Linked DNA regions of Homo sapiens: region 2 is reported to be linked to region 1. Evidence: microRNA targets listed by miRTarBase, many of them from high-throughput screens and not tested one by one. Region 1 holds a microRNA gene; the other region holds the end of a gene's coding sequence.
The links. The annotated mature microRNA hsa-miR-542-5p reads UCGGGGAUCAUCAUGUCACGAGA and lies in region 1 at 1,237-1,259, opposite strand. An mRNA with a match to its seed (bases 2 to 7 or 8) in the 3' UTR can be bound and repressed. Matches are read on the target gene's strand: a 7mer-m8 pairs with bases 2 to 8, a 7mer-A1 pairs with bases 2 to 7 and ends in A, and an 8mer does both.

Region 2: miRTarBase lists UBQLNL as a target of hsa-miR-542-5p. Seed matches in the 3' UTR shown: 7mer-m8 at 514-520.

Annotation. Positions count from the first base shown.
Region 1 is chrX:134,540,164-134,543,581 of GRCh38, forward strand. It overlaps MIR542 (microRNA 542), which reads right to left and starts at 1,274; the gene lies at 1,178-1,274. MIR450A1 (microRNA 450a-1) reads right to left here and starts at 268; the gene lies at 178-268. MIR450A2 (microRNA 450a-2) reads right to left here and starts at 444; the gene lies at 345-444. MIR450B (microRNA 450b) reads right to left here and starts at 99; the gene lies at 22-99. It also overlaps MIR503HG.
Region 2 is chr11:5,511,880-5,515,288 of GRCh38, reverse strand. UBQLNL (ubiquilin like) reads left to right here. Exons shown (of 1, transcript NM_145053.5): 1 at 1-896. The coding sequence ends at 275. Among named protein-coding and RNA genes, the nearest start is that of UBQLNL, 3.1 kb to the left of the region's middle.

The DNA of each region.
Region 1 (3,418 bases):
TAGACTTTTCTCCATATGTTGATACAAAACTATGGATGCAAAATGATCCCAATACACTTATATTACATATTCAGGAACATATTGCAAAAATAATTCTGCATCTTACATTTATCACAGAAGTAAACCACAGATAGCCGCTGTTAGATTTTTTGCTTATTCCCTCCATCTTTTCATCTGTATATTGATACAAAACTATACATGCAAAATGTTCCCAATATATTTATAGTGCATATTAGGAACACATCGCAAAAACAGTTTAGTATCGTTTTTGATTGCCTATAGTGACACAAGTCAGCGATAACCACCTCTAGACTTTTGGTATACTTCCTGATAGCCTCTTTTCCCCATATTATTGATACAAAACTATGAATGCAAAATGTCCCCAATACATTTATATTACATATTAGGAACACATCGCAAAAATAGTTTAGCATCTTTCTTTGGTCACCTTTATACCACAACTCAGAGATAATCACAATAAAGTTTTTATATGTTTCCTCCTAGCCTTTTATCTGTATGTTGATACAAAACTATTCATACAGAATGCTCCCTATATACCTATATTGCAGAGATGGGAAAATATTTTGCACCTTTTTTCAATCGCTAAATGTTTTATCAGGAGCACATTCTCATGACATGAAAATTACTTTCAGAAACATTATTTTACATGAAAGCATCCTATTCTATTGTACTAGCTAGCTACGCTGTATTTTATTTGTCTAATCCTTTGTTGTTGGTCATTCAGGATGTTCCTAACTTCCATCCTTAAAATATTGAAATGAGCATCTTTATGCATTTTTTTTAACTGGGGCTTTCTGTTCATGTAGTTTTTATGGTTTTTCTTGACCACTTGTGTGGACTCAACATACTAAAAATGACCCTGTGTCTGTAATGCTTATAGCAAAGTGTTTTCCAGTTGTTTGCTTGAGCATAAATTCTTTATTTTAGCATTCTAGCACAAGTATAAAATCATATACCTTATGTAAGTTTCAATTCATTCAACAAACATTTAAAGCAATAAAGACACAAATAAAGGCATTCCCATTACACTCCTATGAAAACACAACTCATCCTCCCACCCCATCCCATAGCAACCCCTTTCTTCTTTGCTTAGGGCCCACTTTCCTCCTGATCTTTTCATTGATTCGTCTTGTAATACTTACCACATGTTTTGCTATGAAGATGAGTGGCTCCCAGACCTTTCAGTTATCAATCTGTCACAAGTGCACACTGGTATCTCGTGACATGATGATCCCCGAGATGTCTGAGATCTGTGCATCCTTGACCGATCCCAAATTTCTGTATCACCCATGACCCCTAAAGACTTTTTAGAGAATTATATTTTGACAACATAACAAGAAAACGTGGCATCTCACACACACACACACACACACACACACACACACACACACACACACACAAAACCATGAAAAAGTAGAGAAAGAAGAAACTTCAGCTCTAATCCCACCACCCTTAAGTAACAAGTATGTCTGTTTTGCAGGTTTCCTCCAGGTTCTGCTCCTATTTTTCAATCATGGTGTCCATGTGATTTTGTGGCCCTGATTTTTTTTAAGTTGATATCATAAGCATTTTCCAGGTTTCTGTATATTCTCTATCATTATTATTTGCAATGGCTGAAAAAGGTTCCATTGAGTGAGTGACTAGATTAAGTCAACCCCTATAGCTTGACACTTCATTTGTTTCCTTAAGATAATTTGATTGAATCTACAGAAAATAACAAACATGGGACAGAGGTTTAAAATGAATTTAAATCATGCTTTTTTGGTTTGTGCAGATTGACTTGTACACGGCTGGGTAACTTATAGTCACTATTTAGTAATCCTGGGGCCAATCTTGGGCCTCACCCAGGAAGTGTCCAATGTATAGGCCAAAGCTCATCATAAGACTAGCCAGTTTCACCGGGAATTTTTGTAACCAAACACATTCACCTCCATTTCCTGCTCTGGTCACTACTGCATAGTCGGTTCTGATGAACAGGTAATGACATAAGGAACACAGTATGAGGCCTGGAGGAAGAGCCCCCAGAGAGTAGCCTCAGACAAATCCTTAACCTCCAGAGGCCCCAGTTTTCTTGTCTGTAATTATTTTTTGGACTGCCTTAACTCTGTTTGTCTTTCAAGGTTGTCACAAATTAAAAAAAGAAAAAAAAGAAAAAACAAAGTATTTGGAAAAGTATGTAAACACACGATACAAAGGCAAGATGTTGGGATACTGATGATTCTGTGGCCACGCCTTTAGAAGGTCTGGTCTTAGGGTAATAGTCTTGTCTGGATGGCAGGTGGGGGTGGACATGGGGGAACAGGTGAGGGAGCTGCCTTGGGAGACTCAGGCTTCAAAGCAACCCAGACTCTCACTGGCAGGTTGCTGCAGTGTTCTGAGCTCCCTGACTCCAGCAGTGGAGCCAAGGCCATGTTTCCAAACACCCACCAACTGCTCAGATTATAGAGCTCAGTAGTGGAAGGGGGAGTGCTCAAAGGCCCAAGCAACCACAGGAAGTGGAAGTCTTTCGGGGCTCCTCCCTCTTGGCTCAATTTACTATCCCCACAGGGGTTTTAAGCCTGGCTGAACTTGCCAAAGAGATCAGCTGTGGAGCTGGGGAGGAGGGAAAAGGTGGCAGATAGGTGAAATATTATGAAAGAGCTAGCCGATCCTTGTTTATTCACTGAGGAGTAACTAATGGGTGGGCCTGAGTGGGATGTAGGGGGGCAGGGAGATACACGTTTGCTACACTTGATGTATATATACTCTTTTTTGCTTAAGAGTCATGTAATAACTCTAAATACAAATGCATATATAAAATTCTAGGGTTATGAGATTAAGTCATACTGCAGGCCAATGGGAAAAAAGATCTCTAAAAACATATGCCAACTTGCATATAGCCAGACTCAAGTCTTTTAACTTCTATCGATAAACTCATTGATCTTCCCCAAACATATTTTTTGAACCTAGTTTTATTTTCATCTTACACAGCCTCAGGAAAGCTGCCTATAACTCCCATCTCATAGGCTCAGGTTTTCTGCAAATGTTGCCCTGAGCTCTATAGCAGTCCAGGATTCAGGGAACGAACCCAGTCCCCCGCTGCCCCATTTGCCTTGATGAGTTGATAGGTATGGTGTTTTAAAACAATCAGCAAAACAATTTGCACTGCAGAGTCCTTAGGAGTTTTTTTTTTAATTGGACAGTTGCCCATATTAACGGAAATCAAAAGCAGCATACAGTCATTCAATGTCCCAGCACTGGAGTACAGCCCACTGTTTTCCTGTGTGGGGTTCCACTTTAGTTCTTGTCTGTGTGCATGCATACATTTTTACAGAGTTGTGACCACTGCCTTTTTCTGTGACCCTGGTTATTGACATCTAGTTTTCCAAGTAACATTGACACACATCTGTTCAAATCA
Region 2 (3,409 bases), not on the chromosome of region 1:
GCATAGAGCTTACCCAGCAGCTTCAAGAAGAATACAAGGATGCCACTGTTTCTCTAAGTAGCTCCAGACAGACATTAAAGGGTGATCTCCAGCTGTCAGATGAGCAGAGCAGCTCCCAGATCACAGGAGGCATGATGCAGTTGCTTATGAACAACCCCTACCTGGCAGCTCAGATTATGTTGTTCACAAGTATGCCCCAGCTGAGTGAACAGTGGAGGCAGCAGCTGCCCACATTCCTGCAGCAGACACAGATTTCTGATCTGCTTAGTGCTTAGGCAACCCTAAAGCATTCCAAGCAATATTGCAGATTGAGCAGGCCCTCCAGCTGCTGGCCACAGAGGCTCCTGTTCTTCTGCCTTGGGTTGCACCCTACCTATGGGGCCTGGGTTGGCTTCCTGCCCCCAGCTGCAGCTATCCTGACACAGTGCCCTGTTCCTGGAATGTTTCAGATACAGCTGAGCCCAAGGGACCTGAGTGCTGCCACAAGCCTGGAACAGTCCTGCAGAGGCTACAATCCCCGGATGGGGACCCTTCCCACCCTCTGCAAGCTCCTGAGATTTGTTTTAGCAAACAGATGGATTCTCTCCAGGCCATGGGATTTGGGAACCACCATGCCAATCTACAGGCACTCATTGCTACTGAAGGGGACACCAATGCTGCTATCCGCAAGCTCAAGAGATCCCAGAGATTCTAACCACCATGCCTACTTGTTTGCTTGCTACCTGCCTGCTGACCCACCTGACCATCTCATTTGCCTTTTGCACCTTTCCTGATGCTTCCAGCCAGGAGAAGTCCTGGAATAAGAGTTATCAACCAATGTGTCTTGTACTGAATAATAGATCATTGGTCGTGGCTGAAACATCTGTCAATAAAATGGCTACACTCACTTGCTGCGATCTGAGGTTTGGCTTTACTTCTTTTGCAAAAAAAAAAAGAAAAAACTAGCTGTGTGAGATTTTTGTCTCACCTACTATATGTACATTAACACACAAACCACATGCATATATTAATATAGAGATAAAAATAATGTTTTTATCTCTAAAACATGAGCATTTTGAGCATGGTATATGAAACTTGAGCATGGTATATGAAACTGATTATTTTGAGCATGTCACCTTGGACAGGTGTGTGTATGTACACAAGCTCACATAGTAAAAAATTCACATATACAGGCATATAGAGTCCACATATGAGTACACACAGCCATGTGCAAACACAGATGCAAATACCTAGAGACACATAAATAGACCCATATGTAGGGAAAACAATCATAACATGCTCAAACAGAAAGGGAAACATTTTACATAGATAGGCCCAGATATTTAGTCATAAAGACTGCCTGAATTTCTCAAACCCAAATTGTTCAAGTTTGAAAGTGGAACAGGAATAATATGAGGGCCAGAGTAGGGTGAATTCACATATTAACCAAGTCCGGATGAATAGTTATCATCATTGGAACCTCCTGCTCGTTGATTTTGCCACCATTATAAGATGGTGATGGGCTGTCTCTACTGTCTCTTTAGCACACAGAGATGCAGCTGCTGCCATCTCCACTGTATATCCCAGTCACCACAAATCCAGCCCTCCATGGGGCACAGCACCTTCCAAGAATATCACCTCCTTCAGTATATCTATCTTATGTTTGTAGTTTACATTTTCCATGGTTGCCAATGCCCCACCTTTTTCTCTTTCTGCCTCACCTAGAGTATCCCACCATGGCAGGATATGCAATTATTTGTGTTTTAATGATTCCATGATTAAATAATTTAAAACACTTTTACCATAATAATTCAATGTTGTTTTAGGCATTGAAAAAAATAGCAGTGAAAAAAACAAAGATCCTTTATTTATTGACTTTACTTTCTTTTGTGGAGATACAAGTTATGTTAAGTGGTAAGTGCTGTGAAGAAAAATGAATCAGAATAAGATATTCTACATAGGGTGATGAGGGAAGGCCTCTCTGAAAAGGTGACATTTGAGCAGAAGTCAGAAGTAACTACGAGAACTGAACATGCAATTCACTGGGAGAAGGAAGATCCAGGGGCTGTCTGAAAGTAAAAGGCCCAAGGTAGCAGTATTCCTGCTATGTTTTAAGAATAACAAGGAGGTGATGTAGCTGAAATGGACAAAAAGGAGCGGGGAATGGGGAGGAAGTCAGAGAGATTGTGAAAAGTTTTATAGGTCTGGTGAAAACTTTGGATTTTACTGTGAATGTAATAGTCACTGGTGAGTTTTGAGCAAATAAATCAAATAATTCAATTTATCAGTCTGGCTTCAGAGTGGAGAATGGACTGTGGTAGAGGAAAACCAGGGAAGCAGGGAAACCAGTTAGGAGGCTTTTATGATAGAGCAGTTGAGAAACAGTAGTTTCTTGCAGTAGGGTGGGAGCAGGGGAGGTGTTGAGGAGTAGATTCTGGACTCTAAAGGGGACCCATCCACAGAGATTTGTGTGCTCAACAGACCACCCCTTCTGAGCCCCAACATGGCCATCGGTAAGAGTGAAGGGCGGGCCTACAAACTTCCAAGTGTTTCTAGAAAGCTCACTGCCAAAGACCCCTACTTCATGTCTACACCTACCAAAAAGATAAGTCTCAATAAATAAATTACAGTGAAAATGGATTTTTTACCTCCCCATTTAATATGATTAAGCTTCATACCCTCTTTGCTACAGCTTGCATAAAAAGCTCAGGCTATCCAGGTCATCTTTTTTATTTTCATCACAATATGCTCTGAAAATTCCTCACTTGACTCATTTTTCTACTCGTCACCAGTTTTCCAGCCTCTTCATCCTACCATTTAGAAGTCATAATTTAGCAATAGAAAAGCCCACATATCTACAACCTTCTTCCTAAGGATGACTACACCTTTTTGCTATAATGGAGATCTGAATGTCTAGTGAAGACACTGCTTCTCCAGCAGTGGCTACATCTGTGTTTCCCTTGGACTTGGAAGTGGATAGATGTCACTCTTGCACCATCTTGCTGCTTCTCAGCCCAGTTTTCTGGCTCCAAGATTATTTCATGATGCATGAAGATAATAATTGTGGCATAATACTTGCCTAGTTAACTTATCATGGTGATACTCAACTCTTCACCTAGTCTCTGTTTAGGCAAAAAACGGCATACAGCTGTGCTGACTAGTTTCATTTAAACTTATTACCAAAAGATTTAATTACCGTCTTAGTAATTCTAACTGCATTTTCCCAGTCCAGTGATTCTCACCAGAATCTGCACCAGGATCACCTGGAGGGCGTGTTAAAACACAGATTTCTGCCCGACATTCCAAGGGTGTTAGATTCAGTAGGTCTACCGTTGGGTTAAAATCTCTAATTTCTAATAAGTTTCCAGGTGATGCTAATGCTGTCAGTTTGGAGATCATACCTGGAAATCCACTATCCTAGTTAATTCAC